Linked DNA regions of Homo sapiens: region 2 is linked to region 1. The links come from fine-mapping of genetic effects on gene expression. Tissue or cell type: thyroid. Region 1 holds a variant in brackets; the other region holds the start of a gene. All regions are shown on one strand. Distances are between the middles of the regions.

What was found. PIP is the estimated chance that this variant, and not a neighbour inherited with it, causes the effect.
Region 2: RBKS starts here. The variant in region 1 is fine-mapped to the expression of RBKS in thyroid (GTEx, PIP 0.98).

Annotation. Positions count from the first base shown.
Region 1 is chr2:28,328,522-28,331,021 of GRCh38, forward strand. All of the region lies in intron 11 of BABAM2 (BRISC and BRCA1 A complex member 2), which reads left to right. Among named protein-coding and RNA genes, the nearest start is that of BABAM2-AS2, 19 kb to the left of the region's middle. The variant A/G (reference allele first, on the strand shown) is at 1,101.
Region 2 is chr2:27,889,142-27,891,772 of GRCh38, forward strand. RBKS (ribokinase) reads right to left here and starts at 1,246. Exons shown (of 8, transcript NM_022128.3): 1 at 1,116-1,246. The coding sequence starts at 1,204. It overlaps BABAM2 (BRISC and BRCA1 A complex member 2), which reads left to right and starts at 1,588. Exons shown (of 12, transcript NM_199191.3): 1 at 1,588-1,701. It overlaps BABAM2-AS1 (BABAM2 antisense RNA 1), which reads right to left and starts at 1,973. Exons shown (of 1, transcript NR_028308.1): 1 at 315-1,973. RefSeq lists a silencer at 1,434-1,713.

The DNA of each region.
Region 1 (2,500 bases):
GCAAACATCATGAGGCTCATCTTACAATTACCCAAAGAAAAGCATGTTTGAATTCCAGAATTCAAGTCCTGTTTTGGAAGAAGGCAACTGTTAGGCTCTTGCCAAATAAAAAGTTCCAAGTGAAGGAGGCTAACAGCAACAAGACCACAGGGTCTCGTCCACGGGGCCGGGCTCTAGTGGCACTGGGGTTGGAGTGACATTGGCAGGTATCTTAACTAAACTTGCTAAGCTTCTGTTTTCTCTCCTGCAAAATGGGGAGCATGACCCCTGCCACACCCAGTAGTGTTGTGAGCACCACCTTTGCAAAGCTTAACTGCCTTAGGTGCTCTCTCCCCGCTGCCAGTCCCCAACCTCTTTGGGTTGTATATTCTGTGTTTTGTTTTCATTTATTTAAAGCTATATTGATTCAGTTTGTCAGACGTCTATTTTATGGATTTTTATCCTTTTGAAAAGATCTATTGAATCAATAAAGCATTGTAATTCCAGTAGGAAAGAACCCTTTAGATGAGACTTCGTTGAACAAAGTTTCCTACTGGCCTCAACCCCAAGGCCTCTGAGCATTTCCCTGATAGCTCCCTGTCTTAACTTTCTTCAGTCTCCTGATTTCCCCTTCTCTAGAACCCAACCATTATGTCATTTTCCAGGCATTACCCCTGATAACTTATGCTTCCTGAGCTAGAGGGCAGAGGGGTGGCCGAGAGGAACAGGCCTTCATGTCCCCCGACAAAACTGTCTATGGCACTTTTTGCTCGGGGCTCTGCAGCGTTCACTAACCCTACCCCATTTGTATAAAACTATGCAGATGGAAACGATCCAATAATAACCCAACTACTCCCACCACCTTTGCAGCATTACCACCTCCTACTGAAACTTGCATTTGTGTGGGGCCCTGGGCTTGGTACTTGATACACATTTCCATTCTCCTCACAACCTCCTTGAAAAGAGGTGCTAGTCAATAAAAAATGATAAAGGGGCTATCACCACTGACCCCACAGAAATACAAACAACCATCAGAGAATACTATATAAACACCTCTGTGCAAATAAGCTAGAAAATCTAGATGAAATGGATAAATTCCTGGACACATACACCCTCCCAAG[A/G]CTGAACCAGAAAGAAGTTGAATCCCTGAATAGACCAATAACAAGTTCTGAAATTGAGGCAGTAATAAATAGCCTACCAACCAAAAAAAGCCCAGGACCAGATGAATTTACAGCTGAATTCTACCAGAGGTACAAAGAGGATCTGGTACCGTTTCTTCTGAAACTATTCCAAACAATTGAAAAGGAGGGACTTCTCCCTAACTCACTTTATGAGACCAGCATTATCCTGATACCAAAACCTGGCAGAGATACAACAAAAAAAGAAAATGTCAGGCCAATACTCCTGATGAACATCAGTGTAAAAATCCTCAATAAAATACTGGCAGACTGAATCCAGCAGCACATCAAAAAGCTTATCCACCACAATCAAGTCAGCTTCATCCCCAGGATGCAAGGCTGGTTCAACATATGCAAATCAGTAAATGTAATTCATCACATAAACAGAAGTAAAGACAAAAACCACATGATTATCTCAATAGATGCAGAAAAGGCCTTCAATAAAATTCAACATTCCTTCATGTTAAAAACTCTCAATAAACTAGGTATTGGTGGAACATACCTCAAAATAATAAGAGCCATTTATGACAAACCCACAGCCAATATCATACCGAACAGGCAAAAGCTGGAAGCATTCCCCTTGAAAACCAGCACAAGACAAGGATGCCCTCTCTCACCACTCCTATTCAACATAGTATTGGAAGTTCTGGCCAGAGAAATAAGGCAAGAGAAAGAAATAAAGGGTATTCAATAGGAAGAGAGTTAATCAAATGGTCTGTGTTTGCAGATGCCATGATCTTATATCTAGAAAACCCCATTGTCTCAGCCCAAAAGCTTCTTAAGCTGACAAGCAACTTCAGCAAAGTCTCAGGATACAAAATCAATGTGCAAAAATCACAGGCATTCTTATACACCAACAGTAGACAAGCAGAGAGCCAAATCATGAATGAACTCCCATTCACAGTTGCTACAAAGAGAATGAAATACCTAGGAATACAACTTACAAGGTATGTGAAGGACCTCTTCAAGGAGAACTACAAACCACTGCTCAAGGAAGTCAGAGAGGACACAAACAAATGGAAAAACATTCCAAGCTCATGGATAGGAAGAATTAGTATCATGAAAATAGCCATACTTCCCAAAGCAATTTATAGATTCAATGCTTTTCCCATTAAACTACCATGGACATTCTTCACAGAATTTTTTTAAAAATTCTACATTAAAATTCATGTGGAACTAAAAAAGAGCCCGTATAGCCAAGACAATCCTAAGCAAAAAGAACAAAGTTGGAGGCATCACGTGACTTCAGACTTTACTACAGTAACCAAAACGGCATGGTACTGGTACAAAAACAGACACAAACCAGTGGAACAGGATAGACATCTCAGAAATAAGGCCGCACA
Region 2 (2,631 bases), 440 kb before region 1:
CTCAGTGGAAATTTGGTAACACAGCTTATAAATATTTTAAGGTAAGGTTAAATTGGTTACATGAAGACCCTAGACCTATTTTCTGAGTAGAATACAGGTGGTTTGGTGCAGCAATTTGGTGACTTATTTTGATTGTCCCAAAGCCTTTTTGTTTAGTTCCACGTTCTCTATTACCCTTTGGAAAAGCAACATTTCAGGACGAATGAGGTGTTACTGTAGCATACCTGATCATTTTTATAACACAAAGTAGCATTACAACTGAAAAGATATTCATCAAAAGACTGAACTGCAGTAATTGGAGTGGTAGGATTTTCTTGGAATATCTGAATTTATTACTAATTTTACAGTGAACATACATTACTTTTGTAATCAGAAAAGCTACCTTAATTTAAAAAAAAGAAAAATCAGAAGGATCTGTCTACTCAATCTTACTGACCTAACTCAACAATTTTCATTTGGCATATTTTCTATCATAATTTGATCATCGTTTTCAGAGGTTGTAAATACTGTGTTTATGTTTTTATTTTGATTCATACTTGGCTTGCTGAAAAATACGCTGTAAATATAAAATACTGCAGTAATGCCGACAATCAACATGGTGAAAGGTGACAGTCTTTTTGATTTCTGCTCAACTCATTATTTTATACAATAAGCTCAGACGAATAATACCCAATTTGGATAATGTTACGCTTGACAAAACACTTTACTTCATTTAGTCCTCACAACAACCCTGTGAGGTAGGCACATTCTCGGAGGTAAAATGACGTGGGCAAAGTTCCCTGGCTCGTTTGGGGAAAGGCTCAGCAGCCGGGCCAAGAAAGGTCTTTGGGGGCGCAAGTCTTTGGAGGGCAGGTCTTTGGGGAGCGCTTTGAGTAATATTAGAGCTTTCACTAAACCCTGGCCTATTACGTCCCCTCCCCTGAGATTTACCTTTATATACTCAAGTTCTTTCATGCCAGGAAGGTAGGCTGAAGGCTTCGAAAACCTGCAGCTCATACCCAAAGCTAGCACTGTCTATCCCTGGAGACCCAGCGCCCAAAAGCTCCACTGGGCGCATAGCGCACGGCACGCCTCCTCCCCCGAGCCGCAGACTGAGTAACTGGCCCCGGACTAACCTGACCAGGTCGGTCATGCAGGAGCCCACCACTACCACCGCCGCCACCTCCTCTTGCCACTGCCTCTGGGGTTCCCCAGACGCCGCCATCGCTCAAAGGTGCTGCTGTCCAACCTGGACGGTGACCTCTGCCCTTTGCCCGACCCCGTAACCAGAGACGCCACTCCTGCCCTCCCTAACGACGCGGGCCTTTCAGACGCCTACGCGGGTCGCCCACCTGACTGCCCGAAATCACCCCGCCCACCAAGTGTCCCCTCTTCTTCCTGGAATAGTCTCGGTGCACAGCCTCACGTAACAGGGCCCTCCTGATATGGCGAGACTCCGCGCTCCTCGTCACTCACGGGGCAGGCGCTGAGGAAGGAACTGTCAGGCACCGCGGGGACGCCTTTCCGAGCGCCCGGCTCGGCGCGGCGCGGGGGCGCGCACGCCGCCCAGCTTCGGGGCCGCAGAGGGGGCGGGGCGGGACGTCCGGGGAGTGCGCACGCATCCTGCCCGCGGCGCGCGCGCAGGTCGGTGCGTCTGTCGGGGGCGCGCTCGGGTACCTGTACCCCACGTAGTCGCCGGTTACCGATCGGACTAAGTTCCAGGTACCTGGACTGGGGCTGGTGCGGGGAGGTTGGATCCCGAGTCGCACAGGTGGCGTGGAGAACTGTGGTTTAAATATGGCCAGGGGACTCGCCTCCTCTTCCTATGGAGAAGGCCCCCGTTCCAAAGATGCCCTTCTCATCCCCATCACGCTGATTCCCTCAAGAACGAGCCCCCAAGGCCAGAGGCGTCTCTTTCTCCATATCTGGCCCATCCCCTGGTTCCTGTAAACCCCGAGTATTAGTTCCTTGTTGCCTGATGAGGGGAATCATACAGTTTGGAAGAGGGGAGAGTGTCCCTTTTTAAGACGTCCCCTAGAGTGGGGTGGTCATTCTTCGGGTCTGAGCTAACTTGTTTTTCTCGAATGTTGCCCCTTGGGGGAAATTGCTTCCCCAGTGTAACTTCCCTCGTGCGCTGTATGACGTCGACGTGACGCAGCAGGATGCCACCCCTTTCCGTTCCATGACGTCAGCAGGGCACATGTTTCCGTGTTTGTCATCTCATTTTAATTGCAAGAACCTGGATGGTGCTTTAGACGTCTTTGTAATCCCCAGGCCTCTCATCAAAGGACCTTTTGTAACTTTATTTTGGGGTAGCAGACCCTTGCAAAAATTGTAATTTTGCATTTTCCTTTTGCAATACGTCAAAATCAGGAAATACAAATTGCAGTAGTAGTATTCAGGGGACTCTGACCACCGTAAATATTTGTATATCTGGGGTGTATTATAGTGCTGCCATGCGTAAGAGTTACTACCGGTGGTGACTCCCTGTCCATGTACCCGGTTCACTGCACCAAAGGACCAGTGTTTTTGGCTAAGTGACTTCTGATTTTGGAGTCATTGTGTTCCACTCCCCACCCCCCGCCCTTTTTTTTTAGAGAAGTCACACCTCCTCATGGTTGAAATAGATTTTAATACTGCGTGAAACCTTGC